Regions from separate parts of the Homo sapiens genome. Here region 1 is linked to region 2. The links come from fine-mapping of genetic effects on gene expression. A gene starts in region 2. The other region holds a variant in brackets. All regions are shown on one strand. Distances are from middle to middle.

Region 1 (8,000 bases), 77 kb after region 2:
CTGCTGGCGCTCGGAGAGGGGGTAGCCGGCTCGGATTCCAGACAGCCCCATGCCAAACAGCAGCCCGGCCTTCCGGGTGACAGGCTCCTTCTTAATCCTCTTCCGCTCAGGGCCCTGCTTCTCTGTGAGGCGGGCGAGGGAGAGAGGGAGGAGAGATTTCATGCCATGGTGTCCTCCAAAGCTAGGTCCTTACCTAATGTTACGGAGCCCCCTGCGTCCACCTGACAGCTGACAGAGCAGAAAGGAAGGTCTGTGTATGGGGAAAGCACAGCGGTGCTGGGAGCATTGGTGCCGCCCACCTCACCTCTCAGCAGTGACTGTGAGACCATTTAAACACCTCGTTACCAGCCCCTCAAGTCTGCTAAGCCTGGGCCTCCACCGAGCATCCACTCACTCCAGGCACCTCTCCTGGGCCTCCCCAGACCTCGTACCACACATGAATGCGGTGGGACAGCTTAGCACCGGTGACCTGGCTCACACAGGACAGGTCTCTGTTCAATACACGTGTCTGTAATTCAATTCCACCTTCCCCGTCCCTCCTCCAAACAGTGCAGATATAAAATGGCAGACACAGTTTAAAACACATCAGTAAATCAAGGCCAACTGGTCAGTACTGTACCTTTCTTCTTGCTTCTAGGAACCTCCATCTCATGCCATGGTGCTTCGAGGAGCGTACCAGCCTTGCAGCACCACAACAGGGACTGGGCTGGAGGCATCTGAAGGCATCAACACAGAGCACTAACAAGACACGGTGTGAGAGCTCGGCTGTTTCCACCTCAGCCTCCTCGTAACAAGCACACCCTGCACTCATCTGACCCGTTACAGAACACTCGGCTGGCGTCTAACGCAACTCACGTGCTGTGTCTTTTAAAAGAGGCAGGAGGCAGGGGCGGGGAAGAGAAGACCCCAAGCACCAAGAGTCGGGGGCACAGAAGATGCCTCCTCCTCTGCCTGACCAGTGCCCTCCTGTGGATGGAAATCAGGGGCCAGACACCTCTGAATCCTCCTCCAGCTGCCCTGCGGGTTCTGGGGTTTTCTAGGTCATGGGGTGAAACTGCAGAGGTGCAGCGCAGAGGCAAGGCTCTGCCAAGGCCTGACTCGGGGAAGAAGGGCCACCAGGAAGACGTGGGCCTCTGAAGCTCTCCTCTGAGGCACCTCCCTTCCCTTCCATTCAGCACTCCCAAGAAGCCTCTCTTCAGGACTTCTCCCTCGGCTGGTGTTTGATCCTACAGAGGTGGGAGACATCTCTAACAACGGACTAACTGGATCCCACACCTGCCCGGTCACTGGAACACAGAACGGTCTTAACTAGTCTCTCAGCTCAGCTCCCAGGGCCCGACTCTCTTGCTGTTCACCACCATGGTCCCCGTGAATGTGCCCGTCGATTTCCTAAGAGGACGCTGCCCACCCACTCTAGTTCTTTCCAAGGTATCTGAGGCTGATTTCTTAGGAATTCGGTCTGGGGCATGCTGAGAATGTGGATTCGTATGTCCTATGGGACAAGCCTGCAGGAAGGCACACACCTGGCCACATCGACCTGCGTCACACTCATGGGCAAAACCCCAAGTACTGCAGGCTGCCATCGCCACCACCAGCTAGTCTGTAAACAGTCCTCAACGCACAGATCTGAGAAAGCACTTGAGCTTTGGCCCCAGCCCCTCATAGAACCTGGCAAACACGGTGGTTGGGGAGGCAGCCTCGCCACCGGCCAATGAGCCCCAGCCTACAGCCATCATTGGCGTAGCCACACCTTAGCAGTGAGCTTGGGTCACAGGCGCTTGGCTGTGGGTCTCTGCGTGCGCCCCATGCTTTCCCTGCACCCTCCATGCTGCCCGGGGGCCGGCCCTCCCCAGGCTTGCTTCTCATAGCCACCTCTAAACAACAGAAGCAGGCCTGCGGCTGCCTCCCTCTAGGAAAGAGGCGACGAAGCTGCTGGAGAAACCCCAGCTCCCCCACCGATAGCCCTCAAGTCCTCCTCTCTCCAGGAGGGGCCCACACTCACCGAGCAGCTGGTCTGCCCACAGTCGCCTGGAGAAGCAGCTGAGAACCTCTGCAGGGCCCTGATCCCCAAGACCTAGCCACGCACATTCAGAGGCCTGCTCCCTCCGTCACCCAGAGCAGGGGGGTTAATGTTTTGGAGACACGAAGCCCCCTGAGAACACGAGGAAAGCAGAATCCCCGAGATACACAGACTTTGCAAAGCTGCACACAGCACAGGAGACTCCTGGGAGCAGACGGCATCTCCTTATTCCATTGACCATCAGAAGTGAAAAGCGAGTGGGCCCCACTTCTGTGCTGCATGTGGCCACTAGGGGTGGACACAGGGAGGAGCTGGGGCAGAGTTGGGGTTGCGGAGGGAGGAGCTGGGGCAGAGTTGGGGTTGCGGAGGGAGGAGCTGGGGCAGAGTTGTGGCTGCGGAGGGAGGAGCTGGGGCAGAGTTGGGGCTGCAGAGCGAGGAGGCGGGGTGGTGTTGGGGCTGCGGAGGGAGGAGCTGGGGCGGTATTGGGGCTGCGGAGGGAGGAGCTGGGGCAGAGTTGGGGCTGCGGAGGGAGGAGCTGGGGCGGTGTTGGGGCTGCGGAGGGGAGGAGGCGGGGTGGTATTGGGGCTGCAGAGGGAGGAGCTGGGGCAGAGTTGGGGCTGCGGAGGGAGGAGCTGGGGCAGAGGTGGGGCTGCGGAGGGAGGAGCTGGGGCGGTGTTGGGAGGAGCTGGGGCGGTGTTGGGGCTGCAGTATGTTTACATCCCGAAGTGCAGGCGTTGCCATGCTCTTAAGTTATCAAAGGACCCTAGGAGGCGTGTGTCAGAGGAACAGGCAGAGGCAAAGGCGTTCCTTAGAAGTCAGTCTTTAGGCTGGCAGGCCAGGAGCCCACGCTGCGTCCCCGCTCTGAGGGGCAGCAAAGAGCTGCTTTGTGGCAAACAGAACATGTCCCACTCCTGCAGGGCGGCCATCTCAGGTGCAGCTCACACCCAACATGTGCAGAATGGGCAGGACTCGGTGCCCCCAGAGACTTCCTGGGTGGGCTCCAGGGCCTGAGCCTCAGGGTCAGGGCCACATCCCTCCCGCTCCCCACCAGGCCCTCCCTCTGCTTCTGCTCTGAGCTTTGGTGAAGAAAGCCTGAGTTGGCTTCCCTTACGCGGCCAGGACAGCTTTACAGGGCTGGCTCCCAGCAATTCGCATGGAAGGTGCTGCCAACCTCCTGGTGAATTCTGGTGCCTGGAGCCACCACAGGGACCTTGCTCTGCCCCACACTCAGGAAAAGCTTGCTCCCAGGAAGCAGCAACTTTTCACCCAGCTCTCCCTGTCCTGAAACAGGACTTTTTACTTGTCCTGACACCAAAAAAGTCCAATATGAAACCAGATCTCCCAGGATGCCAATCTCTCCACTGTGAAACAAGCACCTGCAGCTACGAGCATCTACAACGCCCACAACACGCGCCAGACACCACCCAAGCTCCGGAGCCCAGCAAACTTGCACGTCTGTCAGCTCTGAGACACTGGCCACTCCAGTGGCTTCTGGGGTAGAGGGAAAGCCCCACCCACGGAGCGAGACCCCCATGTGCCACAGCCCATGGCTCAACAATGCCTGCTCTCCATTCCAACCCAGCGACACCATGGTCTGAGAGCAGCTGAGCGGGTCCTTGACGTGCACACACACAGCCCGTACCTGTACCTGCACTGTCAGGCACCACACAAGTGGGTCCCGCACTGCCTGCCTGCCTGCCCCTCCTACCCCAGGCCTGGGATGACCTGGAGCCGTGTGCCCCTGAGAAACGCTCCTCTGAGAGGAGAGGCTGCAAAACCTGCTCCCTGCCCTCCACACAGTGCAGAGCGCAGGAGGCGCGGGGTGTTGTCTGCAGGTAAGAAAAGGGTGAGAGCATCTGGAGCTACCCCTAGGACAGCCAGCAAGTTCCTGTAGCATTCTGCAAATTTCCTGTTTCTACCGTCCAAATGGAAGCCAAATACAATTTCTATGAATTCCAAATGGTATTCACCAAGTTGCAAAGTGGAAAACTGGCAAGTCTAGGGACTAAGTGCGGCTACAGCACCACAGACAGATGTGGCCCTGGGTGCCTCTGACCCCGGGGTGGGGGTGGGAGCCACTCCACAGCACTCAGAAGCCCCCTTCCACCCCTGCCCTGCAGTCGGAACACGGCCTGCAGGCTCTGAGGGCTTTGTGGGCTCAGGCAGCCTGGGGCTGAGGGCAGAGGTCCAGGGAGAGCGGTGGAGGGTGCCAGGAGAGGCTGTGTCTTCCCAAGTCAAGCATGTTGGCGGTGGCACCTGTGTCCGCTGACCTGAGCCTGGGCGGCCACCCACCTCATCTTTAAGAAACAAGGCCCGTAGGGCCTTTCTTCAAACCACATCCACCTCGCCAGCCCTCTGAGG[C/T]TGGCAGCACACCTCACTACCCAGCTGGCCAGTGGAAGATTCCACGGAACCCTCTCCTCCTCAGCACAGAGCTGAGACCCCTCCATGAGCCCCATGCCCCTTCCTGGTGCTGGTGCTGCTGGAGCACGGCCTTGGCCTGGGGCAGCAGGGGCCACAGTGGACAATGCTTTTGGGAGCTGGAGCCCACTTCCTGCCCCTGCATCCAGCCATGGCCTTTCTGAGGCAGCAGAGACTGGAGGCGAGCGTCCCGAGGCAAACGGCGGTGGCACCTGGCTCTGTGCAGGTGGGATGGGGGGGATGTGACGCGCCTGGGGGTGCCCTGTGCTGGTGGGATCGGAGCGGGGGCTGTGACCTTCCCGAGGGGTGCTCTGTGCAGGTGGGATCGGAGGGGGGATGCGACCTTCCTTGGGGTGCTCTGTGCAGGTGGGATGTGATGTGGGGGGCCTGCAACCTTCCTGGGGGTGCTCTGTGCAGGTGGGATTGGGGGGGGCTGTGAACCGCCTGGGGGTGCTCTGCAGGGAGTGTCTTCTCTATCTGGCTGCCTTTTTTTTTTTTTTTTTTTTTGAGACAAGGTCTTGCTCTGTAGCCAAGGATGGAGCACAGTGGCGCAATCTCAGCTCACCGCAGCCTCCACCTCCCAGGCTCAAGCGACCCTCCCACTTCAGCCTCAGGAGTAGCTGGGACCACAGGTGGGTGTGCCTCTGGCTGCTTTTAACATCCTCCCTTTGCTGTTCTGAAAACTTCACGTCAGAGTCATATTTAAATGTGTAATTACTGCTCTTTCTCCTGCTTATAATTCATTATACTTTTTGAATTTGAGGCTTGTGTTTTTATGAACCTTGAAAAGCCCTCTGCTGCCGGCCTCTGGAGCCACCGTCTCCCTGCCCTGCTCTCTCCTCTGCCGAGGTGCCTGTTAAGCTGCATTCTCTCCTCCACAGCTCCCCGCTTCCTGCAGGCTTCCTGTCTCACTTTCTTTCTGTGCTCCAGAGTCTAGGCAATCTCTTTTGTTAGAACTTCCAATTCACCAATACTTTCTTATGTTGTGTCTAATAAGCTACATCATCTGCTCACTGGGTTTTTTATTTCAGTGATTATAGTTTTCATTTCCAGATATTCCATATGCCTTAAAAACATCTGCATGATACTCCATGGTTTTAACTCCCCTGATGAATACTGTGCATTTAACCATCCCAGCACGTGAGGTCCCTGGGGCTGACCCCTGCTGACCCTCTCAGAACAGCTTTCTTCCTCAACGTCTTGTAATTCCAACCAGGCTCTTCGTCTGTCTACACTCTGGGAGCCGGAAGGCCGGGATGAGGAAGGTGTGTCTCTCCAGGGAGGGTTTGCTTTTGCTGTGGTGGGGGCCCCAGGGAGTGTGGGGCACTTCCAGCAGCATAAAACAGCACAAATCCAAATGCCAGCCCCACCAGAGGGCAGGAATGGGTCAGAAGTCTCATTGGTGACCTCTCAAAGCCCCTCATCCCTCCTCAGCACCTGTCCCTCTTAGCTGGGGGGACAGTGTCTACCCTGATAGCCCAGTGTCCAGGAAGTGTGGCCCTCTCGAGGGGACAAGCTTTCCGTGGGGTCTGGGCCCAAAGCCCCTTCCTCTACCTCCCTGGGAGGTCTGAAGCTGGGCTCCAAGGCAGAGACCCTGAGGTTGGGCCCCAGGGACGTGGAGGTGTGTGGCCTCAGCTGCTCATCTGAACAAATGCCTTTTGTATCAATCATTTAGCACCTCTAATTTCTAGGCTTTTCTAGCAAGAGTCTTTTAGGAGACACAGGCCACGATACTGTCAACATAGGAAAATGTGCAACTCCTGCGTCCCACCGTAAAACTCGAAGACGTCAAAATACATTCTTGATTCTGCTCCACAAAGGGATGTTTCCATGGCGATATTTTCAAACAACAGAAAGTTCACGGCCGATGGCGGTTACAGCTCATGGAACTGATGGGCAGGGCCGGGTGCAGCTTTGTAGCACGGCTGCTGCTCACAGATTCTCTTCCATTTGACTAAAAACCATGCTGTCCACACCAAACATCTGGCCTCATCCGGATGTTCAAAGCCATGAAATACAGCACTTCTGGCCAAGAAGTCTAAATCACAGCCGATCTACACGAGGCGGATGGTCCACAACGCCAAGTTCCTACCCGGGCACTGAGCTCAACGCTCGCACAACTCCAAACGAGGGCGCAACCATATTCCCACTGACATCCTCCTTGGGGCAGCAAGACAAGCTCCGAACAGCCTGTCCTGGGCCAACAAGAGAAGCTGGCGGGCGCCCGCTGAGCACTGTGAGCCATCTTGTGGTGAGACTGGCTTCTCCTTCCAATCTCCAGGTTTCTCTCTCTTTCTGCCTTCTTTCTGTCAGTTACCGTCATTGATCACTTAAAGAAAGACAGGGCCTACCCCTGTCTGCTGCGTGACCTCAGCCCTCCCGCCTGCCGATGGGAGCTGGGTCATCTCTTACGCCTTTCAGCTTTGGCTTCTTCCGCAGTGTATGTGAAGGGGTCACACAGAGGTAAGGCTGTGCGTCCAGCCCTTGCCTGCACAACCTCCATGCCTTCCCCATCTCCAGGCCGGGGTGGGGTAGGGGTAGGGTGGGGTGGGGCGGAAGGACCAGTTCCACAGGAAGCCTGTGGAGGCAAACAGGGTTATGTGGCAAGGGTGGGAAGGAGCAGGGCCTGAGCCCCATGGTGGTTTCACCAGCATCCAGCGGTCACCATGGTGAACAAGAAGCCAGGAAGGAAGGAAGCAATGTCGGCAAAAGGGCTCAGATGACAACCAAACAGAACGGTTTCCCACCCTGGGCCTCCTTTCCACACACACAGCATCGTGGGTATTTTAAAATAAACAAGATCAACGTCCAAACCTGCGCTGAGGCCTGAGCTGTGTCCGTCACTCCTGCAGGGCACAGGCCTGCCTGGCCGAATGCATGGGCGGTGAGAGCACAGGGCTGGGGGGACCCCTCTGTCGAGGGGCCACAGCTCCTCACACAGCAGAGCTTTATGGATGAAAGGGCTGAGAGGCACAGACAGGCTGAGAAATGGGCCCAAAGTCCCACAGCATGGAGCCAGGAGGTAGCAGACGGCCCCTGCCCGCCCCCCTCACTTGGCTGACTGCTCCCACGGCAGCCACCACCTTTATCCTGAGTCCCGGGGTCCTCCATCAAATCGCTGAGCCTCGGGTGGTCTTGTGGACCCCAGCTTGTCTGTGTTGTGTTGACAACATGGGCCTGGCTACCGGCCTAAGTGCACTTCTGAGGGGTGTCAGGGAAGCCTTTGCTGCGGCTTGGGGATTACAGAATTTTAAACAGCAAGAACCTTCCCTTTGCTAGTCCAAGCTTCCCTTTGTATGAGAAACTGCTTACGTCTAGAGAGGAAAAATGGTTGAGAAATAGGAGGACCAGAGACCAATCACGCGGAGTTCTTAATCATGTGAAAATATTTTATTTTGACGTGCTTTTTCTTGAGTGCCTGAATGTGGTGGCTCTTAGGGTAACCCCAGAATCCTCACTGCGGCAACAAGACCTGGCCACCACCCTCACCTCGACCACCACGGCCTTCGCTGCAGCCCCACTCTGACTCCCCGGGGGCTGCTCACGTGCCAGCACCCACTGG
Region 2 (9,642 bases):
TTGCCTTCAGGGAAAATGTTGAGAAGTAGGATTGCTGGATTGCACCTGTAGTTTTGTTGGATGTTGCCAAATTCTTCTCTGTTCCAGGAGGATGATGTGCCCCAGTGATTCCTGCTTCCTGAGATTTATACCTCTGTGTAGTCCTCTTATATCATAGTAGGGTTGGTCTCTGTGACCAGCAGAATATGACAGAAGTGAGGTTAAAGTACTTCCAAAATTAGCTTTAAAATACCACGCACAGGCAGGGTGCGGCGGCTCACTCCTACACCCCAGCCCTTCGGGAGGCCAAGGTAGGAGGATCACTTGAGGTCAGGAGTACAGCCTCGCCAACATGGCGAAACCCTGTGTCTACTAATAATACAAAAGTTAGCGAGGCATGGTATCACGCGCTTGTAATCTGAGCTACTGGCATGGCTGAGGCAGGACAATTGCTTGAACCTGGGAGGTGGACATTGTAGTGAGCCAAGGTGGCGCCACTGCACTCCAGCCTGGGCAACCGAGTGAGACTCCATCTCAAAAAACATAAATTAAAAAATGAGGGCCGGGCGCAGTGGCTCACGCCTATAATCCCAGTACTTTGGGAGGCCGAGATGGGCAGATCACAAGGTCAGGAGATCGAGACCATCCTGGCTAACACAGTGAAACCCCGTATCTACTAAAAATACAAAAAAATTAGCCGGGCATGGTGGTGGGCGCCTGTAGTCCCAGCTACTCCGGAGGCTGAGGCAGGAGAATGGCGTGAACCTGGGAGGCGGAGCTTGCAGTGAGCCGAGATTGCACCACTGCACTCCAGCCTGGGTGACAGAGCGAGATTCTGTCTCAAACAACAACAATAACAAAAAAGAAATAAAGTGCACATATGGAATCTCAGTGGAGTTCAATTAGCTAAACCAATCTTGAAAAAGAAGGCCAGGTGTGGTGGTGCATGCCTGTAGTCCCAGCTACTCAGGATCCTGAGGCAGGAGGATGATTGAGCCCAGGAGTTCAAGGCTGCAGTGAGCCATGACTGTGCCATTGCACTCTCTCCAGCCTGAGCAACAGAGTGAGATCTTATCTCTAAAAACAAAACAAAACTATGACACAAACACACACATACACACACACACGATTATTTAGCCTTTTTTTAAAAAAAAAGAAAGGAAATCCTATGTAACCTCACATGGAATCCAAACAAGCTGAACTCCTAGAAGCAGAGAGTACAATGTTGCGTGCCAGAGGATGGGGTTGGTGGAAGGAATGGGGAGATGTTGGTCAAATGGTACAAACTTTAAGTTAAAGGATGAGTAAGATCTGGGATGTAATGTATAGCATGGAGATTTTAGTTAATACTACTATATTGTATGATGATTGGAATTTGCTAAGATAGTAGATCTTAACTATTTTCACCACACACTCAAAAGAAGGTGCCTAGCTGAGGGGATGGATGTGTAGATCTGTTTGATCATGGTCATTTCACAGTGTGTGCATACATCAAATCATCACATTGCACATCTTAAGTATATATGATTTTTTTAAATCTGTCAGTTGTACCTCAATAGAGCCTGGGGGAGAAATGGTGCTGGAGAAAACTGGATATCTACATGCAGAACAGTGGAGCTGGACCCTTACTTTATACCACATATAAAAATTAATTCAAAATGAATCAAAAACCTAAATGTAAGCGCTAATGTATAAAACTCTTAGAAGAAAACATAGAGAAAAAACTTCATGGCACTGGAATTGGAAATGATTTCTTGGTTATGAAATCACCCACACAGGCAACTGAAGAAAACTAGATGAATTGGACTACATCAATATTACAAATTTTGTGCATCCAAGGACAATCATGAGAGTGAAAAGGAAACCCACAGAATGGGAGGAAATATTTGCAAATCTTGTGTTTGCTTAAGGATTAATATTCAGTTTATTAAGAACTCCTATAACTCAAGAATAACAACAAAACCAATTTAATTCAGAAAAGGACTTATAATAAAGAAGATAACAGATGGCCAATAAGAACATGAAAAGATGATCAACATAACTAAACATTAGGGAAATGAAAACAAAAGCCACAGTGAGATCACATTACCCCGGTGGTGATGGCTCTTAGCCATTAAATAGGAGGTAACTGTTGGCTGGATGTGGTAAAGTTGGAACCTTGTGCACCTGCTCATGGGAATACAAAATGGTGCAGCAGCTCTGGAAAACAGGACAGTGGTTTCTCAAAACATCAGACAGAATTATCATGTGACCCAGCCATTCCACTTTTGCATATATATCCAAAAGTGCTGAGAACAAGGGTCCAGGATATTTTTGCACACGATGCTCAAAGCAACATTATTCACAATAGCCTGCTGGTGCCAAAGTCAAATTTTAATACATTCAGTTACTTAAAACATATCCGTGCGGTGGCTCACGCCTGTAATCTCAGCAGTCTGGGAGGCTGAGGCAGGAGGATCACGAGGTCAAGAGATAGATACCATCCTGGCTAACATGGTGAAACCCCATCTCTACTAAAAATACAAAAATTAGCTGGGCTTGGTGGCACGTGCCTGTAATCCCAGCTACTCTGGAGGCTGAGGCAGGAGAATCGCTTGAACCTGGGAGGCGGAGGTTGCGGTGAGCCAAGATTGTGCCCCTGCACTCCAGCCTGGTCGACAGAGCAAGACTTCGTCTCAAAAAAACAAAACAAAACAAAATTAAAAGAAAAAAAAACATATCCCAAGGGCAGGCACGGTGGCTGCAGTGGCTCACGTCTGTAATCCCACCACTTTGGGAGGCCGAGGCGGGTGGATCACCTGAAGTGAGAAGTTTGAGACCAGCCTGGCCAACATGGTGAAACTCCGTCTCTACTAAAAATTACAAGGTGGGCACCTGTAATCCCAGCTACTTGGGAGGCTGAGGCAGGAGAATAGCTGGAACCTGGGAGGCGGAGGTTGCAGTGAGCCAAGATCGTGCCACTGCACTCCAGCCTGGACGACAGAGGGAGACTCCGTATCAAAATTAATAAATAATAAATAAAACACATCCCAAACACTCATAGTGTTGAACCATTTAGCATGTGGTTGCTTTGTATACTTCGTGAAATTGTGTCCAATCTCTGCTAGCCATAGATAAGATAAATCCTGGGGCTCTAAAGACTGCAAGCCGTTGCTGCCCTTCAGAGCTTTGTGACTCAGACACCTGTCAGGCTGCTGAGAAACGTGATCTAGTCACGTCAGCCCTCCCCCTGTCTGATCTCCTTCTTCTCTGGGAGTTCTCTGCGCGCCCCCCGCCCACGCTCATTTTTTTCTCTTTTCTGAGTAGTGACCCCCAATTCGAAGCCTGTGGGTAATCTCATGGTGCGTGAGACTCCCTCACCCTCCAACCTGTCAAAGCTTGTGCGCCACCGCCACCTCCTGGGCACATCTTGTTTCTTAATCAGCCACGAAATCACGTGAACACTTCACATGTGGTTTTGTTTTGTTTTTCACATTTAGACTCCTGATCCGTTTGGAGTTTATCCCTGTGAGATCCAGAATTAATTTCATCATTTCTCAGACGGCTAACCATTTGTCTTAGCACCTTTCATTATAAACTGCATGTTTGTTCCACCGCTCTGAAATTATGTTTATGAACCAAATTTCCATGTTACTGGGTTGATGTCTGGATATTCCATTTGTTTCCTGTTCATGTGTCACTAGCACACAGTTTTAATGACAGAGGCTGTTTTCGCATCTGTCGGGCATTGCGCTTTTGTTTGTCCGCGTCGTCTGCGTTATGAGACATTTGTTCCTCCATGTGAACTCCAGGATCAATATGCCTGGTTCCAAAAAAAAAACCTTTTCGTATTGTTACTGGAATCATGTGACATTTCTGAATGAACCTTGGGAGAACCCCTGGTATCAGTGCTATTTTGCAACGTAGTATAGGTGGTCTTGGCTCCTACGGTACATTAGAAAAGTAACAGAAACGCATATTTGAAGCGAAAAATAGATGAACATTTACAGAAAAAAAAAATACCACATTGAAAATGCAGTGGAATCAACTGTTAAAAGTTCGGCGTGATGTTCAGACAGATAAAAAGGAACGGGGCCAGTGACTCCCTGCAGAGATCGAGAGAAGACCGAGCACTCCCAGCACCCGCGGGCTTCTCGCTGTGACCGAACCGCGGGCCGCGCTCGCGACGAGCACTTCCTGGCTGTACCCGCCCAACCGCGCCCTCCTGGTCTGTTCCGGCTCCGCAGTTGCGTCCAGAGGCCTGATCCTTACGTCCGCCTGGTCCTCCGGGCCTGTCTCTGCCTCCAGCCCGGTTCCCAAGGGCGCCCCGGGGCCCTCCCGCACCCTCGCGGAAGAAACTACTACCTCCCCGCACCATAGGCCAAAGCTTCGGCCCGGAGGCTGGAGGCGGAAGTGACGCCAAAGACGCGCCGGCCCCTCTTCCGGCGCCGGCCCCGCCTCCGCCTGTCTTACAGCTGATCCGGTTCTTGCGGCGGTGCGTGCTGGCGCCGGAGAGTTCCGCGCGTGTCCTCGGGCTGTCCGCGGGGAAGCTGGTCCGGGAGTGGGCGCCCGCCCGCCTGCCTCGCGCCTTGCGCCCCCGGCACCGCTTCCAGAAGGGAAAGTCGCCGCCGCTCGCGGTAGACCCGGGCAGCGCTTCCATTCCGCGGAGCTGGTGAGAGAGGGGCCCTTTGCTTCCTTCACTTTGAACAGGGCGTGTTTCTGTGAGAATCTGGCTTCGGCTTTGACGTTTTTTATTTGTTTCTGGCACATTGTGTTGGGACCGAAGCGTAAGGTAGACCCCTGAGCGCCCCGGGCGTGCAGCTCCCTGTGAAAGTTAGCCCGTGGGGGCCAGCGGGAGCGCGCGTCCCTCGCCGCCGGGACTTCCAGGCCCGGCCCTCGGGGCGGGAGGGATGCGGCCGTTGTCCCGCTGGTCTTGGAGTAATCGAATCCACGGTGAACAGTGTGTTTCGACTAACTGTATTTTTTCTCACGTTTTGCTTTAGAAAATCTGAATCTAATAAAAATGTGAACATCTGCTACAAGGAATATCCACTGCAATCGTTTTACTCCTTTTTAGCTTTGGGCCATGTTTTCTCTCTCCCCCAATAAATAAACCTTACGGTGAATTATTATTTGAGTGTAAGTAAGTTGAAATTAAACTGCACACATGATACTTAACCTTTAAATACTTGGTAAAGCGTCTGTTAAGGGTAAGGACATTATCCTACTGAAACCACAATATTAGTATTTCATCTAAGAAAATTAAAATTAGGCCGGGCGCGGTGGCTCACGCCTGTAATCCCAGCACTTTGGGAGGCCGAGGCGGGTGGATCACGAGGTCAGGAGACCGACACCATCCTGGCTAACACGGTGAAACCCCATCTCTACTAAAAATACAAAAAATTAGCCGGGCGTGGTGGCGGGCTCCTGTAGTCCCAGCTACTCTGGAGGCTGAGGCAGGAGAATGGCGTGAACCCGGGAGGCGGAGCTTGCAGTGAGCCGAGATGGCGCCACTGCACTCCAGCCTGGGCGACAGAGCGAGACTCCGTCTCAAAAAATAATAATAATAATTAAAAATAATAAGGTCCGCTGGGCACAGTGGCTCACGCCTGTAATCCTAGCACTTTGGGAGGCCGAGGCGGGTGGATCATCTGAGGTCGGGAGTTCAAGACCAGCCTGACTAACATGGAGAAATCCCGTCTCTACTAAAAGTACAAAATTAGCCTTGCATGGTGGCGCATGCCTGTAATCCCAGCTAGTCGGGAGGCTGAGGCAGGAGAATCGCTTGAACCTGGGTGGCACAGGTTGCGGTGAGCCAAGATCGTGCCATTGCACTCCAGCCTGGGCGACAGAGCAAGACTCCGTCTCAAAAAAATAAAAAAATAAAAAAATAAGAAGGAGGTCATCCACTGTCTACTTTGTGTAATATCTAGGATTCTCAACATTTTTCCAACATTGCGCTGTTGGGTATTTTGGGGACTAAGAGCCCTTCAAGGTTTATCTGTTCCCATCGTTTATGTCTTTTCACCTAGAACAACCCCTGTGGTTTCTCTATCATATTGACTTTGGTGTTGTTTTCTCGTGATACGTTTAAATATTCCTCCATTTCTTGCTGCTTCCTATGAACTTGTAATTGAATTCAGAGGAGAGGTTGGCAAAGGGCGGATAGTAAGCACCTTATGCCTTTGGGTCCACGAGGTCTCAGATGGCTGAGTTCAGCCTTAGTCACCTCATGTCCCATGTTAGCTGTTCCTTCTCTACTCTGTCCTGGTTCCAAGCCCCAGCCTATTTCTGAAAAGGTAAGTGGTCAGCTGCATAGATGACCGTTTAGAGGGTGTAGATTTACTCTGAAATCCCAGAGGGTTGTGCTCTGAGTCTTATCAGTGCTTGCCAGAGGCATCCAGCGGCATCCTGTTTACCATGGACGCTGTGTCAGTGGGTCTGCTGGGTCCTTTCCACCAAGTGCCTAAGAAGCTTGTCCTGCACCCTGAATGTGCACTGATCCACACTTGGCACTGGCAGCCTTACAGGCAACTGTGTAGAGCGTTAACGCTGTTATATACGTTGCCCCTAAAATTAAAAGATCTGCAGAGTGTTGTGCCTCTTTTTTGGTTATAGGTGTCATGAGGTGCAGTAACTTGGAGGTGCATATCGGAGGGGATGTCTTTATGTAATCCAGACTGCTGAACTCGTAGAAACTATGGCCCCTGAATCACAAGCTCTCTGTTGTGTATATTTCATATGAAGTTATCTAAAATGTGTTCATTTTCTGTTCACTGTATCCAACCAGCCTCATGTCAACATAGTGTATGAGTGCAGTCTGAGGGTCAGGTCCTCTGGGGATGATGTTAAGGTGGAGAACTGAATATTACATCCCTTTTTGAAGGAGGGAAAAGAGCCTGTGCAGGTGACAACAAAGTCAACACATTTGTGGGTCTTTTAGCCCAAAGACCTCGCCCCCGCCGACACCTAGTAGTAAGTACAGTTTATACAAGGAGAATGGACATGTTTTTCTGACATGTGAAACTTTACTGTTTTAGTCACCTCATCGGTAGAATAAGAAAGTACAGCTCTAGACCTACCTTTGTCCTGCTGGGGAGTGACCGCAGACTCAGGAGTACAAACTGACGAGACCGGGGCGGGGCACGGTGGCTCACGCCTGTAATCTCAACACTTTGGGAGGCCGAGGTGGGCGGATCACGAGGTCAGGAGATCAAGACCATCCTGGCTAACATGGTGAAACCCCACCTCTACTAAAAATACAAAAAAATTAGCTGGGTGTGGTGGCACTCGCCTGTAGTCTCAGCTACTTGGTAGGCTGAGGTGGAAGAATTGCTTGAACCTGGGAGGCAGAGGTTGCAGTGAGCCGAGATTGCGCCACTACACTCCAGCCTGGGTGACAGCAAGACTCCATCTCAAAAGCAAACAAAACCTGTGACGAGATGGTCGAACATGTACCAGCTAACCGTCCTGGTTCACCACTTCCTAAGTGGATGATGTGGACCAGTTCATGTTATCTGAATCCAGGCTGTTTTAGGTATGAACACGGGTGAAATCTGTGAATGGCTGTTCTGATAATTAAAGGCTTCTGTTGTGTCTTTTGACCCATATACTGCTCTTCAGTAGGTGACGTGGATATTACTAGTCCTCAAGAGAGTAAAGTGGATATAGTGGCTTTCACATATATCATCTGCAGAAACAAGCTAATGCGTGAGGTTTGATAACTGGGAAGTAATGCTTCTTCATCATGATTGCTAGGAAATAGGGATCCAGCCATCCGTGGGTCAGGAGGAATGGAGACTGTACCTTCCACATAGATTCACAAGCTGCCCTGCAGTGGCCTTGGCTTCAGGAAAGGAGCATTCAGACGCTTCCGTCAGCCTCCCAGGATGGCAGCCCCTGACCTGGCCCACGGTAAGTCCTGGTGGGGCTCCTTCTCAGAGCCTCTGCTCTAGGTCCTGATACACAGTGTGTGTATCAGGCCCATGGACGGGGCCTGAGTAGTCACGCTCCGGGTTCCTATTGCAGCTGCTGGAGTGAGCCAGAGAATGCTGACCTGTAAGTCAGCCCCAGGGTGTGTGCTTTGGGGAGGGATGATGTGTAAACTCCTTCATGAGTTTTCTCACCACGGGCAAATGAAGAGTCACGTTCCTCAAGGCGTACCGTTCCATATCTGCAATAGGAGCCTGTTACCATTTCCTGATGGGCGGCATAGCTCACAAACATTTTGTGTCACCAGGCGAAACAGACTACCCTGGCACTGTATGGCTGTGTGTGTGTCTGTGTGTGTTTTCCTGAGGCACTGTATGGCTCTGTGTGTGTGTTTTCCTGAGGCACTGTATGGCTGTGTGTGTGTGTGTGTGTGTGTGTGTGTATTTTCCTGAGGGACTATATTTTCCTGAGGCATTGTATGGCTGTGTGTGTGTGTATTTTCCTGAGGCAGTTTATGGCTGTATGTGTGTGTTTTCCTGAGGCACTGTATGGCTGTGTGTGTCTTTTCCTGAGTGTGCAAGAGTACATGGGAATTCCCTCGCTCTGTATGACTGTGTGTGTGTGTGTGTGTTCCTCAGGCAGTGTATGGCTGTGTGTGTGTGTGTTTTCTTGAGGAAGTGTATGGCTGTGTGTGTGTGTGTGTTTTCCTGAGGTACTGTATGGCTTTGTGTGTGTGTTTTCCTGAGTGTGCAGGTGTATGTGGGAATTCCCTGACACTGTATATCTGTGTGTGTGCGTTTTCCTGAGTGTGCAGGAGTACGTGATAATTTCCTGCTAGGATGGAATGACTTCCGGGTCCATGAGTGTGGAATTAGGGTCAGCTCTGGGTTCTCATGCCTTCTTGCCTTCTTTGTTTTTTAGGAGGTCATGTTTCTAGGGACTCAGTCTGCCTTCATGAAGAACAGACACAGGCAGCAGGGATGGTGGCTGGCTGGCTGATAAATTGTTACCAGGTATGCCAAAACTGTATTTTTTCTTAAAATAACATACTGGTATTCAGCAGATAGACAAGTTTCTGTCTGAGCAGACTTGTCTGCACAGCCTCACTCAAGGACCGAGTCCCTAGTTGAACGCCTCCAGGGAGAAGAGCCTGGCTGGTCAGGTGTTACTGTGAAAATCCTCCCCGTATTTCAGTGTTACTTTTTTTTTTTGAGACGGAGTCTCGCTTTGTCGCCCAGGCTGGAGAGCAATGGCCCAATCTCGGCTCACTGCAATCTCCGCCTCCCAGGTTCAAGCAATTCTCCTGCCTCAGCCTCCCAAGTAGCTGGGATTACAAGTGCCCACCAGCATGCCTGGCTAATTTTTGTATTTTTAGTAGAGACGGGGTTTTGCCATGTTGGCCAGGCTGGTCTTGAACTGCTGATCTCAAGTGATCCACCCGCTTTGGCCTCCCAAAGGGCTGGGATTACAGGCTTGCACCACTGCGCCCAGCCACAACATTACTCATTATTTTCACCCTTGTGCCAAATGCGTGTTTCGTACTTTGCTTAGTGCTCTGACACATGGTAAGGAAGGGGAAGGTATCCTCTCTGGGAACTTATTTCCACATCACGAGTTACCACTTGTTTGTAGTGTGCTCAGGAGAGGGACATAAGGCGAGGGGAGTGCCCAGTGAGCGTGGTGAGAGAAGCTCACATGTTAGAGGTGTCGTTGCGGCCGTGTGACTGGAGGAGAGCGACAGGGTGCGCGTGA

Direction of the effects. Positions count from the first base shown, and alleles are read on the strand shown. Sizes are in standard deviations (SD) of each study's normalised expression.
With allele C in place of T in region 1, the expression in prefrontal cortex of the gene that starts at base 4,423 in region 2 is lower (large effect, 1.8 SD a copy in ROSMAP).

Evidence for each region. PIP is the estimated chance that this variant, and not a neighbour inherited with it, causes the effect.
Region 1: its variant is the best candidate, but not a certain one, in a credible set for the expression of ZNF778 in prefrontal cortex (ROSMAP, PIP 0.85).

The regions. Positions count from the first base shown.
Region 1 is chr16:89,291,062-89,299,061 of GRCh38, forward strand. ANKRD11 (ankyrin repeat domain containing 11) reads right to left here. Exons shown (of 13, transcript NM_013275.6): 5 at 1-122. LOC124903757 (keratin-associated protein 5-2-like) reads left to right here and starts at 5,067. Exons shown (of 2, transcript XM_047435030.1): 1 at 5,067-5,703; 2 at 6,130-8,000. It overlaps LOC105371414 (a long non-coding RNA gene), which reads left to right and starts at 5,067. Exons shown (of 3, transcript NR_136339.1): 1 at 5,067-5,703; 2 at 6,130-6,901; 3 at 7,090-7,256. RefSeq lists enhancers at 102-948, 2,642-3,487, 3,488-4,334, 4,335-5,180. The variant C/T (reference allele first, on the strand shown) is at 4,382.
Region 2 is chr16:89,213,281-89,222,922 of GRCh38, forward strand. It overlaps ZNF778 (zinc finger protein 778), which reads left to right and starts at 4,423. Exons shown (of 7, transcript NM_001201407.2): 1 at 4,423-4,630; 2 at 7,717-7,872; 3 at 8,812-8,903. The coding sequence starts at 7,848. ZNF778-DT (ZNF778 divergent transcript) reads right to left here and starts at 4,373. Exons shown (of 1, transcript NR_186410.1): 1 at 1,880-4,373. RefSeq lists enhancers at 2,961-3,255, 4,205-4,254, 4,779-5,309, 5,310-5,839.